Homo sapiens: one gene and its partners. The protein of the gene in region 4 interacts with the protein of the main gene of each other region in a biochemical or structural test. Each region holds a gene or a part of one and is shown on either strand. Other genes may lie near its edges.

The links.
Region 1: of the proteins of OTUB2 (region 4) and GLI2, one has a biochemical effect on the other in vitro, tested with the Homo sapiens proteins (one study listed by BioGRID).
Region 2: the proteins of OTUB2 (region 4) and PKM form a complex in vitro, tested with the Homo sapiens proteins (one study listed by BioGRID).
Region 3: the proteins of OTUB2 (region 4) and TRPV4 interact in a test that uses a peptide from one of them, tested with the Homo sapiens proteins (one study listed by BioGRID).

What each region holds. Positions count from the first base shown.
Region 1 is NC_000002.12:120,738,844-120,745,876, forward strand, and holds part of GLI2 (zinc finger protein GLI2), read left to right. Parts: intron 1-7,033. UniProt on the Homo sapiens protein: Functions as a transcription regulator in the hedgehog (Hh) pathway. Functions as a transcriptional activator. May also function as transcriptional repressor. Requires STK36 for full transcriptional activator activity.
Region 2 is NC_000015.10:72,221,187-72,228,219, forward strand, and holds part of PKM (pyruvate kinase PKM), read right to left. Parts: intron 1,386-7,033; exon of another isoform or gene 1,368-1,385; coding exon of another isoform or gene 1,264-1,367; intron 99-1,263; coding exon of another isoform or gene 1-98. UniProt on the Homo sapiens protein: Catalyzes the final rate-limiting step of glycolysis by mediating the transfer of a phosphoryl group from phosphoenolpyruvate (PEP) to ADP, generating ATP.
Region 3 is NC_000012.12:109,788,399-109,795,431, reverse strand, and holds part of TRPV4 (transient receptor potential cation channel subfamily V member 4), read left to right. Parts: intron 1-944; coding exon 945-1,103; intron 1,104-1,409; coding exon 1,410-1,502; intron 1,503-1,831; coding exon 1,832-1,905; intron 1,906-2,614; coding exon 2,615-2,780; intron 2,781-3,002; coding exon 3,003-3,069; intron 3,070-6,689; coding exon of another isoform or gene 6,690-6,715; coding exon 6,716-7,032; intron 7,033-7,033. UniProt on the Homo sapiens protein: Non-selective calcium permeant cation channel involved in osmotic sensitivity and mechanosensitivity. Activation by exposure to hypotonicity within the physiological range exhibits an outward rectification.
Region 4 is NC_000014.9:94,029,340-94,036,339, forward strand, and holds part of OTUB2 (ubiquitin thioesterase OTUB2), read left to right. Parts: intron 1-7,000. UniProt on the Homo sapiens protein: Hydrolase that can remove conjugated ubiquitin from proteins in vitro and may therefore play an important regulatory role at the level of protein turnover by preventing degradation.

The DNA of each region.
Region 1 (7,033 bases), on a different chromosome or scaffold from region 4:
TGCTCTGGCCTTGAAGGGGACTCTTGACTCGTGGCTTCCTTGAAGCTTGTGTGGAGTTAGCGAGGCCCTTGTGGCCAGGCAGCCTTGGAGTGGAGTGCCACTTCACTCTCCCAGGGATGCTCTGGTCCACTGGTGGAGAGAGCACCGAATGCAGAGTCAATCCTTTGAGTTGCTTGGTCAGAAGAGGGGGCCGCAGGGCTTCTGGTCAGTGGCTCATTGCCTGGCTGCGGGGGTCTTGGGGGCTGTGTACTGTAGCTGGCTTGTTTGCACTGCAGACTGAAAAATACACAAATACTTCACGCTTTTTGTACTCCCACAAGTGCCCTGTACACAGTGCAGCCCCTGGGGCTGGATTAGCAAACCAGGGATTCAGCAGGCAGGCAGACAAAATTGGATATTTGCCTAATAAACACCCTTCTTCCATTGTCCCCCACCCCTGCCCCGGGGGTACTCCACGGGAAAACTTCACTCCACAGATGCCAGCAGTTCCCTTTAAATGGGAGTAGGAGGTTGTCATGTGCACTTTGAAAGCTTGTGTGACCCCCTCACACCCAGCTGGCTTGTTAAAGCCTAGAATCGGAGTCCTACATCCTTGTGTACTCTTTGGGTAGGGCAGCTGGCCTTTTCCTGGGGAAAGTGTGTTTAGCCCAGCTTCCTTTCATCTGCATGGCTCTTGCGGCAGGGAGGTGGAGCAAACCAGCCTTGCTTCTTGGAGGCTGTGGGGAGGAGAAAGGGGTTCTACCTGGGCCAGAGCCTGTTTCCTAGTGGACAAGGGGCAGCCAGGCCAGGTGGACCTCGCTGTGGACAGCTGCAGCTGTTCCCGCTGGGCCAGGGCCCTTTGAAAAGGAACCCGGGGGAGCACTTCCCCCCTTTCTTCTTTTCACTAAGTGTCAGAGGCATGGACAAGTGAAACACGTGAAGAATGCCAAAGAGAGAAACAGTGTTTTCAGATTCCAGAAAATTCAGAGGCAGAATAGGTGATTGTACCAACAACCAGAATGTACAGTGATTTCAGTTGCTCCTGAAATTGCTCCTGCACTTCTAAAGAAATCGGGGAGGAAAAACTGCTCTCTAATTGTTTCCTCAGGCTTGTTTAACAGATTTGAGAAAGGGTCATCCGACATTGATGTTTGAGAGTGTCCTTTGAAAAAGAGTGGCACCTTCAACACTTTTCTGGTTTTCAAATAAACACACAACACCGGATTCAACATTAATCATTTTCTCTGAAATTAATTTGAGGGTTTGCTGTGGAATATCAAGAATTAAAAAAAAAATCATTGATTATTATTTTTAGGTTTAGAGGATGACAAAAGCATCCTTAACCCACAAAACTGTATTTAAAACCTGGGAAAATGCACAGATGATAACGGTATACTTTCTGTGCATTTAATATCTTATTTTCCCCCAATTCTTTCATCAGCACAGTAATTCTCAATAATCCTGTTTGTGTTGTTTCTGGTTTCTTAAAAAACATACACATGGGGGAAAGTAACTCATTTAAGATGTGACCAAAGAGTACTTATTAAACTGTTTTGGGGATTTGGGTTTAAATTGAATAATGTTTTGTGTGTGTGCTTGCACATGTGTGTTGTTTAAAAAAAAAAAAACAGGTTGCTGGGAAGTGTGTTTTAACTGTGAGTGCCGGGTTTCAGCTATTAGCATAAGAAAAAAAGTTTTAGTGCGTTTGCCATTGTCTTGAATGAAGAGTTCAGCAAAGGGAAGGAAAGCCGCAAAAGGGTGATGGTCCATTGAGATTCTTCTGCAGCCCCGAGCTCGTCATCTGCCTCTGAAATCTGTGATCGGATATCACTTTTATCTCGCTTTTCCATTCTCTGGCCTTTTTCACACGTTCACTTTTGTCAAGGTTTATTGATTATGTTTTCTTCTCTACAAATCTGTGGAAAATTTAATGAACCAAAAACAGCAGTGAAATAAAGGGGACTTTTTATTCATTAGCACGGGATTGGGATTGATTCCCTCTTTGGGCAGCCGAGGGCCCCAGGCCTCCTGCAGGCAGCTAGAGGGAGGAGGGAGGGTGGCCCGGCTGCAGGCTGAGGCGGGGACTCCACAGGCCTGTGGCCTCCAGGCTGAGCAGCACGGGCGCAGCCCTGCACTCCTGTCCCAAGTGAACTCTGAAAGCTTGTCCGCGATGGCTGTGCCGGTTGAGCCTGTATGCAACCACGCCGCAGCCCTTACCCGCCATGTCCTCCTGGGTCCTGGCTCAGTGGGCTTGGGGGAGGTGGGGCGGGGGGTGTTGTTTGTATTTCCCAGACTTACAAACCATTTGAGTGCTGGGCCTTCCCTGGGACACAGTTAAGTATCTCCCTTCCTCCAGACCCAGCCCAAACCTGTAATTAAGCAAAGCCCCTGATGTGATTACGCTTTGCTGACTCGGCTGGGTTTGGAGCCATTCCCTCTAGGAAACAGGGTGAACTCTTGCTCTTCCCAGAGGTTTCCTGGGCAGCTTGTGGTGCACCTCTATTGTACACATGTCCGCCTGTCCCCCTCCTTTGGCTCTCTTCCTCTCCCTTCAGCTATCCGTCCGTCCTTTCTGTCTTTTTCTTTCTCCTTCCCCTTTCTCTCTCTTCTGTCCTGCCCCCACCCCCTCTTCTCTCTGGGTCTCTCCTTTCTCTCCCTCTCCGTTCTCTCTCCCCTTCTCCTTTCTTCTCTTTCCCTCCGTTTCCCCCTCCTCCGTTTCCTCCGCCTTCTCTCTCCCTCTCTTTTCTGTCTTTTCTCATCTTTTCCCATCTTTCCCTCCCGTTCCCTCCGCCTCCTCCCCGCCCCCGCCGTCTGGACCTTCCTCTCCCTCCGCGCCGGCTTTTCCGCCACGCGGAGCGCTGGCTGGCGAGGCCGCGTGTCCGAGCGGCGCCGACCGTGCCGCGGCCGGGGGACATTCCGTGCCCCGAGCGCCCCGGGCCCGCGGCTGCGGCCCTCCCACCTGCGCGCCGGCCTGGTTTGCAGCTCCCAAACAATGGCCACATTGTCGCAGCCGCACACCGGCCGCCGCCGGCGAGTGGCGGGAGGCCGGACTCTGCTCGTGGCGAGTCGGGAAGAAAGCCAACGGGCCAGGTCCCCACAGCCGCGCCCGGAGCGCGCGAGCGGCTCCCACCCGGGAAGGGCGCGGGTTCCGAGGGGCGCCCCGGGTCTTCCTCGACCCCGTTTCCCATTGGCCTGCCCTCTTGCCCGCTTCCCCAGGAGGGGCTTCCAGTTGCCTTTACAGCTGGCGAAGTGAATGAGAGCACTCCACGGGAGCCGGGAAGAGAGAGGCCCCGTGACCAAACTTTTGGTGGCGTCTGAAACTTTTTCTGTAAGGCATCTGCAGACAGTAATCACTAAGGCCGCCTTCTGCCCTTGTCCACTCCCGGCGACAGGAAAGGAAGGGCGGTCCTCTCTTCCATTCGTCTTGACCTGTAGGGATTCGAAACCTCTTAGCGCTCAGAAAAAAGATCTTTGAATGCCTGATGTTAAAAGAGCGTCCCTGGGTCCAAGATAGCCCCTTCAGCAGACGCTTAGCAATGCTTCTTTGTGTGCTGGACAATGCAGTAAGTCAGCCAGACTTTTGAGCCACATTTATAAGGAACTGTAAGGGCCGCTCAAGTACACTTGTGCTAAGTTGAATTGATTGAAATTTAATGGCGGTTAGTGGCGATGAATGGTAATGATTTTCCAGCGTATCTTTGGCATACTTGACATTAATAACTGGAGTGTGTGTGTACGCACGCCGAGAGCCCGCCACACACGTGAGGCCGTAGCATTATTCATTTTCCGAGGTGCCAGTCCTTTCTCTCCTCAAATCCTTTTCCATCTCACCATAATTCAGTTGTTAGGATGACTTTAAAAAAAAAGGAAAGAGGGAAAGAGAAAAATCTTTCTCCATTGAGCACGTACATCATGTCAACGTAATTTTGAGCTCATGATTTCTTTTCAATTCCTACATAAATCAGCTTCTAATATATAGAATGTGACGAATTTGTTTTAGCTGCCATCATGAATTAATGTTATGCAAATAGAAGCTGTGCAGGTGAAATGATTTACTTAATAATTTCAACTTCTAATATTTAAACTCATTCATTATGTTGGAGTTAAAAAAAGCAAGTCCATATTTTTAAACCTCAGATGGGGAGATTAGTATGCAAATATTTGCAGTGCAGCAACCCTTGATGACCAGAAAATAGCTCTTAATTTGTTGATTCTCTGGGAATCTGCAGCTCACCATACCAAGTGGCCTAAGGAGCAGGGGAAAGAAGACTTACCAAGTTTTATCTGGGGGAGGACACAAATGCATTTACATAATTCCATCGTGACCATCAATGTACCATATCCAGTGGGACTGAACTCTCTCTGCTTTGGGGACCAAGGAAGGCTTCCCATTTGAATTTGTCTTGAAGAATAACTGTAACTGCCAGGTAGAGAAGGGTAAAGGGCTCTGATGTGCCGCCTCCCCGCTCCCCTTCCTGCTTCTTTGTCCTTTGTCCTTTGCTAGTTAAGACCATCTTAACACTGTAATTCCAGGATTTGGGGAGGCTGAGGTGGGAGGATTGCTGGAGTTCAGGAGTTCGAGGCCAGCCTGGGCAACATAGCGATACCCTGTCTCTACAAAAAAATAAAAATAAAAAAAGAAATCATCTTAAGAGCCAGTCATTAAATACCGGCCTATGAAGGTGACCCTGGTGTAGAAAGTTGGGCCAGAGGACTACCCAGATAACTGTTAGGAAGACTTTCTTATATATACCATCCTTCCCGGCTGTTTCCCTCTGGAAGAAGCTAAGGAAGAGCACAAGAGTGATGGATGGCTGCAATATAAAGATAATTAGCCCGAACCCCTTGGAGTTATCCCCAGGGACTGGGAGACCCAGTCACTCAATAGCTGGGTGACCCTGTGCAAGTTGCTTCGCCTATCTCTGGGAAGGGGGCGGGGCTTGGTAGATGTCATCTCTCAGGTCCTCCCAGCTTCAAAACCCTCTGAGCTAGCACACCCTGCCCACTGGACAGCCATCTCTAAGAGTCAAGACAGCGGGTAGGGTGGGAAGATCAGAGTCTGGAGAAAGGGAAGGTCTTGGGTACCCCCTGGGGAGAGTTGGGTGCCTGTCAAGGAATATGTCCTGCCTCTCCTTGCTGGCCACTCTTCTTAGCCAGCCGCTGTGCTCAGGTACCTCTGGGATGTGGTCACAGGGTCAGTGTAAATGGGAGTGGCCTTGGGGACATTGGTAGAGAGCGGAAGCCTGTGATGGTCTTTTCAGACTTTCCTCGAGGCTGAAGATCAGTGAAGGAAGGGCTGACACATAAATTTGTCTTGGATCTCTGAAGATGATAAGGGTGGAGTTTTGACTTCACTTCTCAAAAAATTGAGGTCGTTGCAGTCTGATGACAGGTTGAAGGCACATCACTCAGACGTTTCTGCAGACAGCTGTGGGTTGTGCTGTCATGATACATTGTGTGTGTCCAGGCAGTGACAGTATATTTAGGGCTGGCCCTCGCTGTCTGTGGAGATCAAGGTGAGGGGACATCTCTGGTGCTCTTGGGCTTGAGAGAATGCATATGTTGCCTTGTTTATGTACTGAAAGAAAAATTGGACTCAGTAGCTACTCTGTTACTTCCATACTTTTCAGGTATGTGAATCAATAGTTGGAACAGGATTGTAGAGTTTGAATGTAATTCAGGTACATTCATCTACCGAAGATGTGGTACATAATATAGTAATTTACATACACAGTATAGTATGTTAGATTACCCTTCCTGCTGTTCAGTGTGAATGAGGGATGTGCGACATGTATATTTATGCTGATAGACATTTATATGGCTAAAACTTTAACTACCAGATTCCTTTAGAATTAGATTTTTGTTCTTCTCCTAAAATGTGCTTGTACCCAAGAACAAGAAATTAAGAGGCACATCTGAGAATAAGGCTGCAAAGGTCTCTAGGTGGGGTTCATGGGCCTCCTGGATGAGATTCAGGTGGGAAGCTTGTTAAATATTGCAGAATCTTAGGTTCCCCAGGGAGAACCCATTGAATGAGAATTCCTGCAGAGTGGGTCCAGGAATCTGCATTTTATCCAGGATTTTTAGGGTGGGGTGATGAGGAATAATGTCTTTTTACTATGATGTCCCTCAGATCTGGGACAGTCCAGGAATGGATTTTCAGCCAATTGCAGCACTTGCAGCTGCCTGGACAGCTGTTGCAGCAAGGAAACTAGCTGAAAACAGAGGTGCTTCTGCTCCAAAACAGCTCTTAGAAGTAGGCTCTAGAGCAGGGTCTCTCTTTCACAGGACAGTAGCTGAGACTATAAGGTGGCTCTGGTGGTTACTTGCTTTTACTGGCCCCCAAGAGAAACAAGAGAGTATATTAAGTTAACATGTTGGTTTATGTGCTGTAGGTTCTGTCCCAAGTGTCCCTGGGATGCCTCCTTTCTTTTTCCATGTAAGGAACTGCAGCGCCATCAGGATGCTTTGTGGCTGAAGTGGGACCAATTTGGCATTGGACAGTTTGAGTAGGTCTTTTGGAAGTTTGACCCACACTTAGGTTTGGTTGAAGGGCCTACCTTGTGGACACCTTTATGGTCCCTAAGAAAAGTAGGAAGGAGACAGATTGTCCAATAGGGGTGAAGTTGCAGAAGAGGATGCTGTGTGGTGGCGTCAGGCCTGGGAGCTGGAAGGAGCCTGCCCTGAGGGTGAGCAGAGCCCTCACTCAAGATTAGGGGCCTAGGAACAGACTTTTCCTTTCACTACTGTCCTGCAGGCCTTGGAGACCTGGGCTCTTCCACACCCGCAGCTGTGACCATGTGGGGTGGCTTCTGGGGCTTTGATTCATACAGTTTTGCACTGCAGACTTCATTTGCTTGATGCTAATGTTACAAGTGCACCTGGGCCAGGACTTCAAGAGTGCATGGAAGAACACACTGGAAACATTTGAAATTGTGATGTGGGTGGGTCCTCATCCACCCTGCAGCTGGTTCACCTGGTGGCCATGTGGTGGGATTTGCTGGTCTGAAGAGGCTCAGGATTCCTTCTGTCCACATTTTTGCAGTTCTTCTGC
Region 2 (7,033 bases), on a different chromosome or scaffold from region 4:
GGCTTCCGGTGACATAATGCTCCCCTTTTGGCTCAGGGTGGCTCCTTGGCCTCACTAGCAAAGACCGCTCAGAGCTGAATACGGTGTGCCCTGGAGAGCTGCACAAGGATTAAGGAAAAAGCTGAGTGTAACTAAAGCTCTTTGGGGTAATGGAAAAATTACCTTAATAACCAGGTATCCAGGTGACAGCTGCTCTAGAGATTCCACTGTTATGTCTCTTTAAACCTGTGATTTACTAACATTCCACTATTCTATACAAGAACCTGGTCCCTCCCCTTTTGGGAGCGGGGAAGGGACACCAAATTAAACATACCTAAAAGACCTGGGAGGATATATACTGAAATTTTAATAGGACGTCATTGGGGTGGTAGGATTACAGAAAAAAAAAAATCCTCTTTATTAACAAATTTACTGATATAAATATAAAAATACTTTTATAGTAAGAAATTATGTGTACCTCTTTTGGAAATATTTATATGCATCCTATAAAATTGTTGGGAGGAAGTAAATGAAATGTGAAGACACCAATTCCATTAATCAATTGCTGCTCTATGCACTTCAAGAATAATCTGCTTTTAAAAGGTGGCAGAGAAAAGACGCATGTCTCAAGTTCTGTACACTGGGTTGTGATTAAAAAAAAAAAACGATACAAGTCTTAGGCCCTACATCACAAATGTACTGCAGAACAGTTTCAACGGCTTAAGAAGGTCAACCTTAATACATTCAGAACCTCAAAGCAAAAAAAAAAAAAAAAAAGTCCACAGGATAATCCCATGCCTCAAACCTGTTAGTTACATGCCCAAATCCAGCAAACTAGTTTGTTCTCAAGCTTTACAGTAAAAGCTTTTGACAATGTTCTGGTACAGAAGGGCTGCCTCCAAGTCCACGAGATGCCATTAGCAGATAAAATTATATTGGCCTCAAACACAAACCCTATTTCAACTATCTCAAATTAAATCTGATGCCTATAAGCTCTAATTTTTTGCCAATAAGTACAAAAATGACAAATGAAAATTTCTATAGTGGATTTACGCATTAGCAGTCAAAAAAAGCTTGCTTGTCAGCAAGTTCATCCAGACTCCAGATCTCATGTGTCCTTCATGCTCTCTACCCAGCCAGAGACCTCATATCTCATGCCCAGGTCTTTCCTCAGGCTCTGACCTGAAGCCTCCCTTGCAGGGAGGGCCAGAGCTCTCCTGCCTTCTCCAAAATCCTCCACAAGCCTCTTCCCAGCACAAACTGCCCATCCCACCAACCACGTACCTAGAGTTGTATGTAAAACACTCACTGGACTCCCCTGGCTCCAGGAGAGCAGCCCAGCCTTGGTTTCTCAGGGCGGACTTCTGGGAAAGACTCCTCTCCCTCATGCCAGCTGCCTGGACAGTGCCTGCCAGGACATGTGGCCCCACCCATGCCAGTCTGACTCACTATTGCATCCTCCTCCTAGGAAGGCACAGACATGCAGAGCCAACCTCCAGCCAGCAGTGGAAGCCTGGCGTATCCACTGATAGCAGCACACACCATGCCCAGGTCCAGGAGCCTTATTCTTGAGCCCGAGCCCCTGCAGTAAGATCTTCCTCAGAGCCATGTCTCCTCTGTGAGAAAGGAGACACCATCTCTAAGAGGCCTTAGTCTGGAGTGACAGGTTGGAACAGGCACAATCACAGCTCAGCTCCAAGTGCCCTATTCTCCCTTTCCTTTCTCATCTCAGACAGCTCCTGGCTTTTTATATTAGTTTCCTTTGTGTCAGACACAATTTTTTGGCCATTCTTCAGAAACCAGGAGACAAAAATCATAAAAAATACCCAACACTCCTCCCTCCAACTTTTTTTTTTTCTTTTTTTTTTTTTTCAGACAGGGTTTCACTCTGTCACCCAGGCTGGAGTGCAGTGGTGTGATTATATTATATTATAGCTCACTGCACCCTCAAACGATCCTCCAGCCTCAGCATCCCAAGTAGCTGGGACTACAGGCACGAACCACACCCAACTCCCATGCTCCACTTCTTAGGGCCAGGACTGTTGTTGGGTTGTGCTGGGAAAGATTCACGCTTCACTCCACCAATTCTTCCACAAAGGACCAAATCATTCTGCCCTAATAAAATAGCCTGGCCCGTGAGTCTGCATCTGCCTAAGTCATTTTTCCTTTGTACCAATTATGCTCCGATACCAACCTCATCACATAGATCAACTATAAAATGATGGCACCTGATGCTCACTTTCTCCCTCCAACGTTGCCAGTAGGTACCCAAGATTGTGTTCCTTCCTGTGACGTCAGTTTGCTACCTACACCTCCAAGCCATCATGAAGGCGTTTCGATCCACAACTCTTCCGAACACCTGCATCCGTTAGAAAGTCTGCATCATGATACGCTGGCATTCAGGTCAGCCTGCTCTCTAGTTCTCTTCCTCAACAATGGAAATGGAGTTTCTAAGATTTGCCCTAATCAAACTAGGCCAGCAACATGATCAAAATGGGTGACGGGCCAGCAGAACCTAGTAAGGTCTGGAATAGGCACTGTTCATCTTCATCTATAGTTAAGGGTAATGACAATAATGTATTTGCATATGGGTGCAGGATACAGAGGATAAGATATCTTCTAGCTAAGAGACCTGGGTCTTAAGCCCACACTTTAACCCCAGGAGGCCCCACAGCAGAAAGCAGTATGGTGTTACCAGGCTACACAGAACAAAATGAGCCCACTTGTAGGTTCTAGTAAAATTCCCTGGCTTTAAAAAAAAAAAAAAAATCTTGGCTCTTTTATTTCTTCGGGGCTGAAAGTAAATGACTTGTCAACAGGAACCTAAGGTCCTATTTCCAACTAGAGTGTGGAATAGGGAAGAGCAGCTGATGCTAAATGGGCCTACTTCCCTCAAAGACCACTCAACTTCAGGTGAAGAAGCCCTAAGTCAGAGACCCCTCAATGTCCTCAGATGCCGAGGATTTCCTGGTTCCATCCCAGCTGCTCAGTGCAGAGAACTGGTTTCAGCCTGAAGGAGGTGGTTTGGGGGAAGCATTAGTTGTCCTGGGACATGGTGCCTCCTTACTAGGATTAAAAGTAGGGCGGTGTTTCTGGGTATGATATCCACACTCTAAAATCAGCAAGGGACCTGGGACCCTGATTTAGGGTCCTCTTAAGTGCAACTAAGGTGGGTGATGGCCTCAGCAAAGTGAGGCACTGGCTCAACATTTACTGGAAGGGCTGCCCTGCATTCTAGTCGGGGGGATAAAGGAGGAAAGGCAGTGCCAACTCTCCAAGAGCACTGAACTAGTTACTATGACTGGTCTTCCTACGGCAGCCTTTATAGGTTTGCTTCTATGTTACGAATTAAAGAAAAAAAAGTTTTAACATCTGCCTCTCTACCACCCAGAACTGACCATTAACACTGAGCCATGGCTGGCTGTGTTGGCTCACGCCTGTAATCCCAACAGTTTGAAAGGCTGAGGCGGGCAGATCACTTGAGGCTAAGAGTTCGAGACCAGCCTGGCTAATATGGTGAAACACCATCACTACTAAACATACAAAAATTAGCCAGGCGCGCACCTGTAATCCCAGCTACTTGGGTGGCTGAGACACAGAATTGCTTGAATCCAGGAAGTGGAGGCTGCAGTGAACGGAGATCGCACCACTGCCCTCCAGCCCGGGCAACAGAGTGAAAAACTCTGTCTCAGAAAAAAAGGAAAAAAAAAAAAACACAAATAAAGGCTGAGCTGTATTTTCTTTAATTTCTTTTTTCTTTTTTTTTTTTTTTTTGAGATGGAGTCTCGCTCTGTTGCCCAGGCTGGAGTGCACTGGCGCGATCTCAGCTCACTGCAAGCTCCACCTCCCAGGTTCAGGCCATTCTCCTGCCTCAGCCTCCTGAGTAGCTGGGACTACAGGCGCCCGCCACCAGGCCCGGCTAATTTTTTTTTTTTTTTTTTTTTGTATTTTTAGTACAGACGGGGTTTCACCGTGTTAGCCAGGATGGTCTCAATCTCCTGACCTCGTGATCCGCCCACCTCAGCTTCCCAAAGTGCTGGGATTACAGGCATGAGCCACTGTGCCCGGCCCTCTTTACTTTCTAAAAACAAAAACAAGAATTTTAATTTTATACAGTTCATTTTTTCTCCATCCCCAAGCTCCTCCAACCCTTTCCACCTCCATCTTAAACTTTTTTTTCTATTTTATTTATTTAAATAGAGATGGGAATCTTGCGATGTTGCCCAGGCTGGTCTCGACCTCCTGGCCTCAAGTGATCCTCCTGCATCAGCCTCTCAAAGTGCTGGGATTACAGGTGTGAGCCACTGCTCCCAGCCACATCATGCATTTTGACACCCAATCACTGTCATGAACTCTATATCCTTCCAGTTCACTGAAGTCTATGTACAGTGTATCTATGTCTATACTGAACCCTATAATATTGTGGTTTTCTTAATGCCCTAAGTGGTATACTGTATATATCACTGAGTAACTTGTTTTTCACTCAGCAGCACATTTAAGATCCATCCAGTGGGTATATGGATCTAGCTAATTCATTTAAGCTGTTACACTAGTCCACTGTACAACAGACCATTTTATTTATGGACTGTCTTACTGGTGGCCACTCTCCCTCCCCGTTAAACTAAGTTTCTTCTATTAATCAATACTCTTGTAGTACATGTCTCCCTGTACTGTGTGAGTTTCTATATATCCAGAAATTGAAGTCTTAGGTCATGGAGTATGTTTATTTCTATTTTTACTAAATAAGGCTGAATTGCTCTCCAAAGTGGCTATATCAATGAACGCTGAGTTGCTGCCTTCCACACCTTTTTCCACACTTGGTACTGCCAGACTTTTTAAATGTTTGCCCATCGGTGACATTTGTTTTTCTGCTCATCTAATGTTAATAACCAAAGAGGGATACCCAGATAGTTTCAACGTTTACAACATCTCTATTTCCCTGCTTAACTCAATCAAATCTCCTCTGAAATGGCATGGTGGACACAGTGTGTCTTATGTGCCCTGACTGACTCCACTGATGGGCAGTTCTTTTTCGTTCATGGCCAAGGGAGATATCAGTTGTTTAAAATTGAAGAAACATGGCCAGGCGCGGTGGCTGATGCCTGTAATCCCAGCACTTTGGGAGGCCAAGACAGGTGGATCACGAGGTCAGCAGACTGAGACCATCCTGGCTAACACAGTGAAACCCCGTCTCTACTAAAAAATACAAAAAAAATCAGCCAGGCGTGGTTGCGGTTGCCTGTAGTCCCAGCTACTCAGGAGGCTGAGGCAGGAGAATGGCATGAACCCGGGAGGCGGAGCTTGCAGTGAGCTGAGATTGCACCACTGCACTCCAGCCTGGGTCATGGTGCGAGACTCCGTCTCAAAAAAATAAAATAAAATAAAATAAAATAAAAAATGAAGAAACATTATCTGCAAGTAAACTGAAGATGTTTGGAAGGGATAGGACTCCCTTCAGAGAATCTTGACTGCAGTATTCAGCCAGCAGCTGTGCTGGTCCACAGTGTGAAATGCTAGGACTGGCAACCTCACTGCCCTTGAATAACTGGTCTTGGCATCTCTCCCACTGCAGCCCCAGCCTGCTTCCAAGACTGCTTGCTGGCATGAGGAAAGAGGCTTAGGGCTCCCCAGGAGCTTTGTCTATGGACAGAAGTGGGGGAGGTGAGTCTCAGAGGCCACCGAAGGTACTGCAGCCGGCTTGTTCCCTCCTACGTGCAGACAAGCACAAACCACTGCAGGGGCGGGGCTTCACCGCACTGCATGGTAGGGGCCCTAAAGCACCCAACTCCTGAGCTGAGCAGTCATACCAAGAGGCAGGAAGGCCCAGCAGATGCTGCACATCACCCTCCACCACTCACCCAGGCTCACCTTCCCCCAACAGCTTCTTTAACAAAGTCCCAAGTATTTAAATTACTCAATTATCCAGTCTGCCCCTTGGTAAAAAAATGCAAGCTCCCCGCAAGTATGGTGGTATCAAAAATGGTCTTCATATATCTGGTTGTTTAGCTCTATTCCCATCTGTATCAGAACTGATGCTTAAAGGGACAACTTAAAATCCTTAAGACCTCATACCAAATAAACCAATCTCACGAAGACCCTTGAAGATGCAATAAAACTCTGCTCACAGGGTCAACGCATTCTTGTGTTATACCAGCTAATTGAGATTTGACTGTGGACTTTTGGAGTGATTCAGAAAGAAGGGTAATGTCAAATGAGTCATTTTCCTCTACTCCGGTCTCAGTCTTAGCTCTTGGCCAAGATAACACATCCTGACTTGCCTTCATAAAAGCTGAAGCAGGCCAGGTGCAGTGGCTCACGCCCGTAATCCCGGCACTTTGGGAGGCCGAGGCCGGTGGATCACCTAAGTCAGGAGTTCAAGACCAGCCTGGCCAACATGGTGAAACCCCATCTCTACTAAAAATACAAAAATATTAGCTGGGCGTGGTGCAAGTGCCTGTAATTCCAGCTACTTCGGGAGGCTGAGGCAGGAGAATTGCTTGAACCCAGGAGGTGGAGGTTGCAGTGAGCCGAGATCACACCATTGCACTCCAGACTGGGCAACAAGAGCAAAACTATCTCAAAAAAAAAAAAAAAAAAAAAAAAAAAAAACAAAAAACTGAAGCAAAATAAACTAAAACCCAAGTAAAGTGAGTTTGTAATGTAAGTGCTGCATTTTCTTCTACCTTCCTGCCCACGGCCGTTTCCTCATTTCTTCCATTGCCTCAATATTAAGAAATAAACAGCTTTAGGAAATAAAATGGTTTTTCCTGTGACCCCACATCAGTGTCACAACATTCAAGGCACAGAAGCAACTCCCATAAAGTGCTAGCTGTTTAGAGTCACCGCCACCAAATTTGCTAAGTCACTGGGGGTACGGTTCTTAAAGAGCTAATGATGCTCTTTGCTAAAATATGAATACAACATTATTTCTAATGCAATGCTTAAAATGAAAGCAGTTGTGCTAGACAGGAGACCAACATCCATACATTTTGGCTCAAGTCAGTAACTGAGAAATGAGTTCAAGAACCTTCTTTAAGTCATCATTAATCAAGTC
Region 3 (7,033 bases), on a different chromosome or scaffold from region 4:
GCCCTGTGGCTTACTGGTCTGTGAGCTTGGCTTCCTTGCAAGACCTCATTTCCCTCATTTTTTGAATTAGTGACCATCTTGATTTAAATTAGTGGTGGCAGGAGGTTTAGCATCTCAGGTGCAAACTGATTGATTAGTAGTGTCTACCCAGGGAACTGTATGAATACAATTGTGCAGGGCTCAATTATTGATGTCTGCCCTGGGTTCAGAATTGGAGAATTGTGGTGAGTCAATCATTTATCATCTTTGGGCAAAATTTCTCAATCTTTCTCTCTGAATCAGAATTTCTGAGAGCGGAGGCCAGGATTTATACTTGCAGCAAGTTACATAAATTATTTTGCGGCCAGCAGCTTGGTACTATCCACAGATTGGAGTTTGGGAACCATGAGAATAAATGTCTTTTTTTCTTTTTTGAGATGGAGTCTCACTCTTGTTGCCCAGGCTGGAGTGCAGTAGTGCGATCTAGGCTCACTGCAATCTCCGCCTCCCAGGTTCAAGTGATTCTCCTGCCTCAGCCTTAGGAGTAGCTGGGATTACAGGTGTGCACCACCACGCCCGGCTAATTGTTGTGTTTTTAGTGGAGACAGGGTTTCACCACATTGGCCAGGCTGATCTTGAACTGCTGACCTTAGGTGATCCGCCTGTCTTGGCCTCCCAAAGTGCTAGGATTACAGGCATGAGCCACTGCGGCCGGCCTGAAAATAAATGTCTTTTAAGGGACTTTCCAGTTCCGAGTTCTGTGATGCTAGAATAGGGTGGAAAGGTACATTGAGGCAGAATTGGGCAGCTGAATCCATTCATGAATCCGTGAATGCAGCTGAGGAATGGATGGAAAGAGAAAGCGCTGTCCGGGTGGAGGGTGGGGGAAGGCACACCCGAGGCAGCCTGCCTGGACCCCCCACCCATCTCAGGAAGGCAGCCCCCGACCACCCTGCCTCTCTTAGAACCGCCACGAGATGCTGGCTGTGGAGCCCATCAATGAACTGCTGCGGGACAAGTGGCGCAAGTTCGGGGCCGTCTCCTTCTACATCAACGTGGTCTCCTACCTGTGTGCCATGGTCATCTTCACTCTCACCGCCTACTACCAGCCGCTGGAGGGCACAGTGAGTGCCCGGGGACCGGGCAGGGGCTGGGGCAGGCACTGGGCTGAGCCATGCAGGACTGGGGCACAACCTCATCCTTCTGGGTCCCCTGTAGGGGGACCCGGAGAAGGTTTAGGAACAGGTTGGGGAGGCGCCCTCCAGCATCCACGGGTGGCCCTGAGCTGGGAGGAGGAAGACTCAGGAGGAAGAGAGTGAAGGAGGAGGCTCCATGGGATGCCGATGTTTCGGGCCTGGGGGAACATCTGGATTGGGGGCCAGATGTTGGAGGGGCTGGGTGACGACCTGTGTGCCCTTGCTGCTCCCCAGCCGCCGTACCCTTACCGCACCACGGTGGACTACCTGCGGCTGGCTGGCGAGGTCATTACGCTCTTCACTGGGGTCCTGTTCTTCTTCACCAACGTAAGTGCCTGGCCCCCGTGCCCCCCACCCTGCCTGCCCTCCTCTTCTCTTCCTGCACCTCTTTTCTCTCCCTCTTTTTCTCTTCTCTCTCCTCCAAATGGTCCTTCTCCTTTCCTTCCTCCTTTTATTTTCCCATTTCTCTTCTACCTCCTCCAATCCCACGTTCTCCATCTCTGCTTTTTTCTCCTTTTCTAACAGGAAAGAGTCCTTTGTCTTTTCTCTGTACCAGCCTCTGCCTCCCTCTCTTCTATCCCTTTCTCTGTCTCCTCTCTCCTCCTCTCCTCTCCTGCTGGCCCCACCCCTTTCACGTGCCCCCTCCTGTCTTCCAGATCAAAGACTTGTTCATGAAGAAATGCCCTGGAGTGAATTCTCTCTTCATTGATGGCTCCTTCCAGCTGCTCTAGTGAGTAGAGGTCCCTGGGCCGGCAGCTTCTGGGTGAGGAAGGTGGGTTTGGGCTGCTAGGTCGTCCAGATTCAGGAGAGAGGTGATTCTGTTAGAAATGAATGCACCCAACCTGGGCAGCTCTAACCCAAAGTCAGGACAAAGCCACAAACAATAGGGTCTTCTGGTTCAAGAAAAATTCTGATTGCTAGGGAGTTATCATATACAACATGGATAGAAATAATTTTAACCTCTTATGCTGGTGAATGATTGCTAATGTCTGCCTGAAGTGCCATGTTAAGAATTTTGCACCTGTGTCTGTGTTTAGTGGGAAAGAGTTGGGATTGATTAATGATGTCTGCCTGGGACAGAGAATGAGAGAGTTACTGAGTGTGTGTTACCTCTTTCACATTTCCCTTAGAGTTGGAGAATGATGAAATTCACTTAGCCACAAAATCTCCACTGAACACCACTAAATCTTTCTTTAGCAATTCCAAGGGGCATCACTTCAGGATCCTGTGGGACCTCAGGATTAATTGCCAGCTAATTGAATGTTCTTGTTAACAGAATGCTGGGGAACCCTGCTAATCCACTTTGTTTCTTTTCTGGGGGTCTAGAAGGCATTGGGAAGTCCTGATACCCTGGAGGGCTTGGAGGCGTGTCTTCCCCTCCAGAGCCTCATTGTCCCCTCTCCCCTCTGGCCTCTCTTGTGGTCTCTGCTGCACTGCAGCTTCATCTACTCTGTCCTGGTGATCGTCTCAGCAGCCCTCTACCTGGCAGGGATCGAGGCCTACCTGGCCGTGATGGTCTTTGCCCTGGTCCTGGGCTGGATGAATGCCCTTTACTTCACCCGTGGGCTGAAGCTGACGGGGACCTATAGCATCATGATCCAGAAGGTACGGGCTGGGAGGACCCTCTGGACTCGTGTGTTCCTGGAGGGAGTCACACACACACCACATGCACACTTATGCACCTGCAGACCTGAGGATGCTGGGTACCGTGGGGGCAGGAGGCATGGTCTGGACACTGGGGTGGGACCAGGGTGGAGATGGAGGAATGGGGAAAGTGAGAAACCATGTGTCTCCTCTTTGCCTCCATAATCCCGCTGGGGTCTTTAGATTCTCTTCAAGGACCTTTTCCGATTCCTGCTCGTCTACTTGCTCTTCATGATCGGCTACGCTTCAGGTGAGCTCTGGGTGCTCAGGTGGTCCTGGCAGGGGTGGTGCAAGGACGGGAACAGTAGCCATGATGTATAGGGGACAATAGCAGCCTTGCTGAGTTCTTTTTTTTTTTTTTTTTTTTTTGAGGTGGAGTTTTGCTCCTGTTGCCCGGGCTGGAGTGCAATGGCACAATCTCAGCTCACTGTAACCTCCACCTCCCAGGTTCAAGTAATTCTGCCTCAGCCTCCCACGTAGTTGGGATTACGGGCTCCTGCCACCACGCCCCACTATTTTTTAATTTTTTTTTTTTTGTATTTTTAGTAGAGATGGGGTTTCACCATGTTGGCCATGCTGGTCTTGAACTCCTGACCTCAGGTGATCCACCCTCCTTGGCCTCCCAAAATGGTGGGATTACAGGTGTGAGCCAACGCGCCTGGCCACTGAGTTCTTATTTGTGTGCCAGGCACCAGACTAAGTACGTTTCCATCCTTGCCTCCCAACAAGCCTGTAAGCTAAGTGCCTTTATTATCCCCTATTATAGAAAAGGAAACTGAGGCTTAGGAGGGTTAAATAACTAGCACAAGTTCAAAAGCCAGTGAATGGTGGCCGGGCGCAGTGGCTCACATCTGTAATCCCAGCACTTCAGGAGGCTGAGGCGGGTAGATCACTTGAGGTCAGGAGTTTGAGACCAGCCTGGCCAACATGGCAAAACCCCGTCTCTACCAAAAAATACAAAAATTAGACAGGCATGGTGGCGCGCAACTATAGACCCAGCTACTCGGGAGGCTGAGGCACAAGAATCGCTTGAACCCAGGGGGTGGAGGTTGCAGTAAGCCAAGATGGCACCACTGCACTCCAGCCTGGGCAACACAGCGAGACTCTGTCTCAAAAAAAAAAAAAAAAAAAAAGCTGGTGAATGGCAAAACTGGAGTATTAGCTATTGCTACAAAGGAAGCCACCTAAAGTGGGGCTTAAAATAGCACCCACTTATTATTATTATTTTTTTTGTGGCAAGGTCTCACTCTGTCACCAAGGCTGGAGGGCAGTGGTGCTCTTGGCTCACTGCAATCTCTGCCTCCTGGGTTCAAGCGATTCTCTTGCCTCAGCCTCTCGAATAGCTGGGATTACAGGCGTGTGCCACCACGCATGGCTAAGTTTTATATTTTTGGTAGAGATGGGGTTTCACTATGTTGGCCAGGCTGGTCTCGAACTCCTGACCCCAAGTGATCCACCCACCTTGGCCTCCCAAAGTGCTGGGATTACAGGCGTGAGCCACTGTACCAGGCCAACTTACTATTGCTTATGAGTCAATGGGTCAGCTGGGTGGCTGTGCTGCCCTGGGCCAGGTTTGGCTGATCCCTACAGGCTCTTGTGCCTGTGGTCAGCTGGCAGGCTGGCTGCTGGCTGACTGGTCTAGCTAGTATGGACTTGGTTAGAGGGGGTTTGCTATCTATCTTCCACATGGTCACTCATTTCTGGACAGCTAGCTTGGGCTTGTCCACATGGTGGCCTTAGGGTTCCAAGAACATGAGCAGAAGTGTTCAAGGACACCTCCTGGCATGGCATCACTGCTGCCTTACTCTGTTGGCCAAAGCAAGTCACAAGGCCAGCCTCGATTCAAGGGATGGGGAAATAGACGCCACTTCTTTTTTTCCATTTTTTTTTTTTGGTGGAGGCAGGGTCTTGCTATGTTGCCCAGGCTGGTCTTGAACTCCTGGGCTCAAGCAGTCCTCCTGCCTCAGCCTCCCAAAGTGCAGGATTATAGGCGCGAGCCACTGCACCTGGCCTAGACTCCACTTCTTAGTGGGAGAAGCTGTAAAGCCACATTGAAGGAGGATGGATACATGGAAGGATAAAATTTAATAATTAAACTAGCAGCCCAGGTATTTTCTTAAAGCCCAACATCAGCTCCCTTGATATACCTTCTTCGTGATGTCATGATGCCACTAAGAAGCATTCTGGGACCTCAGTGGCATGGGTCATGGGAGAAGGACCAGGGACCAGGGCTGGAGAAACTGACCAAGTCCTTGGGCTGATCCCCGAGGTGTGGGTAATCTGACATCAATGCCCAGCATCCAAAGGGGAATGGCCAACTCAGGTTAGACCTGGACACATACACATCTGAGCAGGTTCATCTGGGGACGAGCCTGGCACAGGAATCTGACAAGGGTGATATTTTAACCCACGATAGTGGCCAAGTCTCTAGGTAGATTATTGGTGGGAAGTGGAATTGTAGTTTTCACTGGGGAGATAGGGACAGGGTACAGCTTTCCCTTCCCAGGGATCACACTGGACAAACTAGACAGTGTCAAGGGTTCAACAACAGTTTGGGATTCAGGTCAGGGATCTAGCCCTACTGCAGTCCTAGTTATTGAAACTAAGGAGAAACAAGGGTTAGAGTAGCAGCTTAGCAGTCAGCTTGGTTGCAGGTCTTCTCCTTATAGGATGCACTAGATCTCAATTCTGAGGCTGACATGACATAAACAGGACACACATGCTTCTGTTCCCACACTTTGGTGTCCATAGCAGACATCACTAATGGATCACAGAACAGTTTTTCCGGTGAGTCCAGACAAGGTCTCAGAATCCTTCTCAACACAGTGTTTCACCAGGTACTATACAACTGAAGAACATTAGCATATGAGTTGAAATCTGCATACTCTAATCCCTGGTTGCAGGCAGTATGACATTCTGTGCCCCACTGACTGATGGGACTGAGTCTTCTTCATGCTCCCCTCCCTGGCTGGTTTAGGGACAGGTTGTTGCTGCCAAACTGTGTTGAGAAGGAATCTGAAGCTCCACCTGGGCTTAGTAGGAAAGGAGAACCATGATGAGTTTGAGATGTCTAGAGCAGGAGAGGCCCCTTAGAGAACACGGCTTTGGGGACAGTCAGGACTGATGCCTGGTTTCAGCCCCCACTTTTCCTCTCTGGGTTGGGGTGGAGTGGGAAACTGTCAGAGAGAGAGTCTACCCCTGCGAATAGGGGCATTCCAGAGCCCCCAAGACCTCTAAGAATGGTAGGCCGCATTAGGATTTCCCAACACTATTGACATTTGAGACCAGATCATTCTTCGTGGCGGGGACCATCCTGTGCATTGTAGGGTGTCAGGCAGCACCCCTGGCCTCCACCCACCTGATGCCAGTAGCACCCCCACCCCCAGTTGTAACAACCAAATATGTCTCTAGACATTGTCAAATGTCCCCTGGTGGGAAAAACTGAGACCCTCCCTGGACTAGATCCTGAAAACCTTTTCCCTCCCGGTAGCAGGGAACCACCAGGTTGTGTAAGGAGGGGTGAACTGTCCCAGGTTGGAAACAGAGCAGGTCAAAACTCCTACGCTTATCAGTAGTGGGATTGAGCCTGTGAGTAGCCACTGCACTCCAGCCTGGGCAACATAGCAAGACCCCATCTCAGAAAGAAAGAGAGAGAGAGAGAGATAACCTCTTCCTTATCAGCAAGAGTTTATGGAAAGGCTTCAAAGGTTTTGGGATCAGGAGGACCTGGGTCTGGTGTGGCTTGGCTGATGTGTAGGGTGACATGGGTCAGCGTGTGGGCCAGCGTGCTCCGCTCACTAGGCCTCAGCTTTCTCCTCCAGCAAATGAGAATGACACCCTCCACCTCTCTGTGGGTGTGCTCACACTCAGTGAGTGCCACCCCTATCCTCCCACAGCCCTGGTCTCCCTCCTGAACCCGTGTGCCAACATGAAGGTGTGCAATGAGGACCAGACCAACTGCACAGTGCCCACTTACCCCTCGTGCCGTGACAGCGAGACCTTCAGCACCTTCCTCCTGGACCTGTTTAAGCTGACCATCGGCATGGGCGACCTGGAGATGCTGAGCAGCACCAAGTACCCCGTGGTCTTCATCATCCTGCTGGTGACCTACATCATCCTCACCTTTGTGCTGCTCCTCAACATGCTCATTGCCCTCATGGGCGAGACAGTGGGCCAGGTCTCCAAGGAGAGCAAGCACATCTGGAAGCTGCAGG
Region 4 (7,000 bases):
TGGATTCTTACAGTGCTGGAGGCTGGAAGCTCCAGATCAAGGTGTCAGCAGGGCCATGCTCCCTCTGAAGGCGCTAGGGAAGGTTCTGTTCCAGGCCTCCCTCCAAGCTTCTGGTAGCTCCTTGGCTTGTGGTTGCAGAACTTTGATCTTCACGTGGTGTTCTTCCTGTATGCCGGTCTGTGTCCTAATTTCCTCTTTTTATAAGGACACCAGTCGTATTGAATTAGAGGCCCACCCTACTCCAGTATGACCTCATCTCAGCTAATTACATCTGCAATGACCCTATTTCCAAATAAGATCCCATTCTAAGGTACCAAGGATTAGGTATTCAACATATGAATTTTGGTGGGGGGACACAGTTCAACCCATAACACTCCGTATACATTTCTGGAGCATGGCTGTGTGCCAGGCACTGAGGAGCCAGCACTGACAGGCAGACAAAGTCCCTGCCCCCATGGAATTGGCATTCCAGTGGAGGGAGCCGGGCAGCATGCGGGTAAACAGGCGAGCCTATGAGATCATGCCATGAAGAAATAAAGGTGAGAGGGATGGGGTGGGGCATGGGAAGGCCTCTCTGAGGAGGTGATGCCACCTGCATCTTGGGAAAGGCAGAGGAAGAATCCAGGTCAAAGGAGCAGCCGTGCAAAGGCCCTGGGGTGAGAGTGTGTCTTGTGAAGGAACACAGAGAGGGCCACATGGGGTCAGACATGGGAGGTCGTTGTCAAAAGATTGAGTCTTGGCCTAAGTGAGGGAGTCCACTGGAGGGCATGGGGGAAGGGCGTGCCCTTGCTGGTTAAGCAGCTTGTATTGGCTGCTTGTGGAGAATGGGCTGGGATGGGGGCAGGAGTGGAAACCAGGAGGTCCTTGGGCAGATGTTGGTGCAGCCTCCCTGGGGGGAGATGATGGCAGCTTGGACCAATGGGGAGGTCGGGGAGAGAGGAGTGGAGAAGCACTTCTGGGTCTTGGCATCAGCTCTGCTTGGATGGGGAGCTGGAGAAGCCTGTCGGGGGTGGGGGGCGAGGTGGGCAGGAGAGCAGTCAGGGACACGCTAATTCAGTAATGTTCTCAGACTTCTGAGCAGGAGTGGCTGTGGAGTCAGAGCTCTAGGGAGAGGTCAGGCCCGGAGAGGAAGATCTGAGGGCCTGTTGGGAGGATGCTGTATGAGTCTAGGCATAAGATAAGAGGGAAGGCCCGGGCCCAGGTCAGGGTCTCTGCAAAGCCAGCTAATAACTGACCCGGGGGGGAAGCCTCAGTGCAGGGTCTTGTCACTTTTCTTAGTGGAGCAGCAGAGAAGGGACATGTAGCAGGCTGAACAATGGCCCCAATGATGTCCACGTCCTAATCCCCACAACCTGTGACTATGTTACCGTGGCGAGAGGGACTTGGCAGGTGGGATTCCGTTAAGGATACTGAGTTATCCAGGTAGGCGCGATGACGTAATCACAAGTGTCCTTATGAGAGCAAGGCAGAGTGATGGGGAGGGTGGGGGCCGGTGTGTAAGCCGGGAAACCCGGGAGCCTCTAGAAACGGAAGACAAGAAAATAGATTCTCCTCTAGAGCCCACAGAAGGAACACCACTCTGTCGCCATCTTGCTTTAGGCCAGCAACACTCCTTTCGGACTTGTGGCCTCCAGCACTGTCAGATCGCACATTTGTGTTGTTTTGAGACACTAAGTTTGTGCTCCTTTGTTACAGCAGCCACAGGAAACTCAGGGCACTCGGCTGCCCCCAAATCCATGGCTTCCAAACGATTATCATCGCTCACCTCATCAATACAAAAACTCTGAGGCCAGGCACTCATACCTGTAATCCCAGCATTTTGGGAGGCCAAGGTGGGAGGATTGCTTGAGCCCAGGAGTTTGAGACCAGCCTGGGCAACACAGTGAGATCCCATCTCAGAAAAAAAAAAAAAAGAAAAAGAAAACAATGTTGAGCACTGCATGCATACATATGTCACATATCATACCCCTGAGTACACATCTGAAGGGATATTTCCTTCCAGCCCCTGGAGCAGTCCATAGTGCTGGGCCCATGGCTGCGGGCTGCTTGAGGAGTCCTTAGGTAATGTGGGCAGGTTTCAGGTACATACAGAGGCTTGGGAGGGAAAACCAGAAGACAGTGGGGACTCGTACTTTCCCTAAATTTGGAGGTGGGGCTCGGTACATGGATTAGGGATGGGGTATCAGGGGCAACCTCTCCAGCGTCATGGTGGGAGTTTTATACCCTGGCTCTTTAATCTCAGCTGGCGTTCCAGGGATGTAGGAGGAAGGACCAGCAGACAGCTGTAGTGCTGGCTCCCACCAAAGACTCAAAGCCAGTCTGAACACAAAGCCCACGTCCTTGCGCTTTCTGCTAGTTCCCAGGGTTACTGGGGAAAAGCAGTGATTGAAGAACATCCTTTTCTCACTTTGAAATATATTCCTCCACGCAAGCTGCTAAATCTGTTTCCAAGCCACAGTGCTATCTGACTTAATTAATTAGCATCTATTTGCAAACCAGCAATTAAAGGGCTAAAGTCCTTTTAGGTGGCCTAATTAGGTCTGACAGGACATTGTCAGATGTGGCCTGTCCTTTCTCCATAACATCCTAGAAATTTTCAGCCATGGTTTTAAAAGCAATCACGAATGAGAGTCAGCCAGGTCAAGCATCATGCCTGATTTATGGGCTAGTAAATTGAGGGTGTGCCTGGGGTTCTTCCGGGAGCTTGAGTCTCTGGTCTTGCCAGGGGTGTGGCCAGAGCCCTGCTAGTGGGGAGTGGCAGGGGACCAACTTCGGCGGACTTGGGTCATTCTGGAGGTGCCAGGTGGGGACTTGAAGGGCCAAAGCGAGAATCCCCTTGTCCCCAGGTCCCCCAATAATTACATCTGGGACCACTGGTGCGCTGGAGCTAGCCCAAGGTTCCATCACCTGCAGATGGAGGTAGCCCACCTGCGAGACATTTGTAAGCAGGGGTAGCTCTTAAATAGTGTGGAGTAAAGGGAAAAAAATATCCAGAATATCTATAGAATAGTATTATGCAAACTTAAAATGCATGCATACTTACAAGTCTGTATTTTTTAAAAAGACAAATGCATTTCATTTATAAGAGGTACCTAGAGTAGTCAAATTCATTAGAGACAGAAAAGTAGAAAGGTGGTCGCCAGAGACTGGGGGCAAGGGGATGGGGAGTTAGTGTTTAATGAGTAGAGATTCATCATAAGTACACGGAAGAAAAAAAATGGGTATGGGAGTTTCAGTTTGGGATGATTAAAAGCTTTGGGATGGGTGGGGGCGAGGGTTGCACTGTTGTGTGAATGTACTTAAGGCCACTGAACTGTGTACTTAAAAGTGGTTAAAATAATAAATTTCAGGTTATGTATGTTTTACCATAATTATAATAAAAAACAAATATATCTAGAAAGACATGCCATAGAGACTACCCATAGGGGCATGGGGGCATGGAGGAATGGAAATAGGGATCAGGGACAAAGGAGAACAAAACCTGAAAAAATTCCTTCCTGAGGCTGATGCCCACAGTGTGTCCTGAAGGTGTGGTGAGCTCAGCTCTTAGCAGATGGGAGGGCTCCGAACTGCTATGTAGTATTTTCTTCTTTTTGGAAATGAAGTCTGTTGCCCAGGCTGGAGTGCAGTGGTGCGGTCACGGCTCACTGCAACCTCTGCTGCCTGGGTTCAAGTGAGTCTCCTGCCTTGGCCTCCCAAGTAGCTGGGACTACAGGTGCCCACCACCACACCCGGCTCATTTTTGTATTTTTAGTGGAGACGGAGTTTTGCCATGTTGGCCAGGATGGTCTTGAACTCCTGACCTCGTGATCCGCCCGCCTCAGCCTCCCAAAGTGCTAGGATTACAGAGGTGAGCCACCGAGCCCGGCCCTATGTAATATTTTTCCTTAACTTGGCTCTTTTAAAGAGCTTAAGTAGATTTGTCAAAAATGCAAATTTTATGTTAATAGAGCAAGTGGAAACCTAACTTGACTTTCCTGGCATAGGTGCCACCCCCGTTCCTAATCCACCTTTAAATATTCCTCATTTTAACTGTTGATGGCAGTTTTCTGCATTGAAGTACTTATTTCTGCATGTTGAAGATTAATTCCTTAAATCCATTCCACTCCTCCATTGATTACCTCCTCAGACACCCTGCAGAGGAAATGTAGCTGATTTTGTGTCCTCCTTCTGCCATTTTGGTTTTGGTTTCGGGCAGTCCAAGCACAAGCAGTGTTAACTATAGTTGTTCTACTTTTTGATCTATGATTTAAAAAGACCCAAGCCATCATTTTAAGTCAGCTGTCTGTATAAACAACAAGGCTTTTATACAGTATAAACAAATTGTTAGATAAATAACGGGACTTTGGAATGAAGTCAGAGGGTGCGTGAGTGGGAACGAATTGGGCAGAGCAGGTGCGCTTGTTTTTCAGTATTACCTGTTTGTCCTCTTACCATCCACACAAGGCAGCAGAGGGAGAGCTTTCATTCTGAAATGTATAGAATCCTATGAATATTTGCTGTATTAGCACGCAGTATGAGGGCCAAATTAATTGTACAACTAGCAATTGTTATTATGCTAGTAATGTCAATCTTTCATGATTTAGAATAGACCAAAACATGTTAACTTTTTATAAATTTGCCTTTGAAGTCAATAAATCTGGCTTGGTTTAAGTTAAAAGAAAAAACACAAATGAAAATGGAATGATTTTAAGCTGTAAGTCAGAGGCCTGCCCACTCTTGAGAAGAGAGACTAGCAAAGTAGAAAGGAGTTCAAGGTATGCTAGAGACTGTCTTTCTCCTTGATGCGATCAGAAGGCTTGAAGGAAGTGGAACGGCAAATCACTTTCCTTCCAGATATCACTGATGTATTTTACCACCGTGTCTGGATATTGCCTGTAAATCGTGTCCTGTTCCACCTGTGATGAGCACGTCTTGGGCTAGAAAATGCTGTTGTGGACACTGAGCCCCCAGGATCAGGAGCTGGATGGAGAACTTTCCTGGGTGAGGCCTCAGGGGCAGGAGGTGGGGACCTGGCCTGTTGATAAGAAGGCCCTAGGCTGCCCTGTGTGGAATGTTCCTTTGTGTTTAGCAGCCTTGGTCCCTCAAGACCTCTGTGCTCTGCCTGCCTAGCAGTTTGGCATGGTAGAATTTCCATGGGCTTCAGAGTCAGATAGATCTGCCTAAAATTACTTCTTAGCACAGGGCACCTGACCTTGTCAGTAGAATGGGTATAATACCCATCTCAGGAGGTGGTCTTGAGGATTAAGTGAGATAATGGGGACGTGTCAGCCTCTCTCCCTGAGCCTAGCACATAGTATTTGCACAATAATGGCACCTGTTATCACTTCAGACCTCTTGGGCCTAGGGTAGCAGATTGCCAGATCATCTTCCATGTGTTGACTTTCAGCCTCACGCTCGCAGGATGGCTGCTGTGGACATTGCATCTGCATTGACGGTGGGAAGGAGTAGAACGTTCCATCTCTGTTCCTTTTATCCAAAACCAAAAGCTTCCCCAGAAGTCCCCAGCAGACTTTTCATGGGTCCAGCTGGCCAACCCCAGCTACCTGGCTGCCCATAGCTGCAAGGGAGGCTAGGAAAATGGGAAAGAGGTAGGATTGTTGTGACCTACCCAGTCATTTTTCATCATGTTGTGGGATTCCATTAGTGAGGAGGAAATGGGTCACAGCTGATGAGACAGAAGCCCTTGGCACCTGCCCCCAAGTGTTGTCTGATTCCTCCTGATGGCTTTCCTGTTGCTTTGCCAGCCCACGCTATGATGTCAGGGCAGAAGGAAGGAAGGAGCCTGGGGCTGGATTAATTTCGCAAAGAAGGGTCGGTACAGAGTGGAAGCTTCTGGAAGCAAAATCCAGAATCCCTTCTTCCCACCCCCCAAGTGTTTGCATGCCCTGTTTCTTCTTTCCTCTTTTGGAAACATTCTTCATCCAGTTCTTTTTTTTTTCTTTTCTTTTTTTTTTTTTTTTTTTTTGAGACAGAGTCTCGCTCTGTCACCCAGGCTGGAGTGCAGTGGTGCAATCTTGGCTCACTACAACCTCTGCCTCCCCGGTTTAAGAAATTCTCTACCTCAGCCTCCTGAGTAGCTGGGATTACGGGCATGTGCCACCATGCCCAGCTAATTTTTTTGTATTTTTAGTAGAGACGAGGTTTCGCCATCTTGGACAGGCTGGTCTTGAACTCCCAACCTCGTGATCCACCTGCCTTGGCCTCCCAAAGTGCTGGTATTACAAGCATGAGCCACCGTGCCTGGCCCATCCAGTTCTTTAGGACAATGAATTCATCCTCTATTCTTAAGCTATCTTCTGGGAAGTTGCCCTGAATCCCCCATGTCGGGGGGAGATCATGTTTGGTGCCACCAGAAAGGGCGAAACAGAATAAAGTGTAAGTTCAAGGGAGAGCACAAGCCTGACTCAGATGAGGTGGGGAGATCAGGGAGGCTTCATGGAGGAGGTAGCTTTTATTCATTTGTTTGAAAAATATCTCACCCCCTTCTCCGTGCCAGGCCCTGGGTGAATGGAAGATGGCAGACAGTATGACAAGCTGTCATTCCAGGCCCCCCAAAAACACCCCTGCCCAGTCCCAGCTTCTCTCCTGACCTGATACTGGACACAGGATCAGGGCCAGATGGAAGTTTGCCATCTGTCCCATGTGGAGACAGAAGCAACAAAAGTCATTTAGGCCTCATTATCTAATCTCATGGCCCAGCTTTCTGCTTCTGTGGGCTGAGCTTTGGAAAAAGCTAATCATCAAAAATCCGGATGTATTTCTTCAGGTGGAGAAAGGGGTTTGTAGCATCAGAGGGCTCCTCTCTGAGCAGGATGGTATTGGGTTGAGATCATTATCTAGTCAGTGATGAGGCTGAGAGGCTACCAGGGAAGGCCACTGTGGCCGGTGTGACATGAAAAAGGCCAGTTACAACTGGGTGTCAACAATGATGGTGATAAATGAATGGAAAACTAGATTACTATTTACAAAAATCCCAATTAACAGTGACCATCCACAG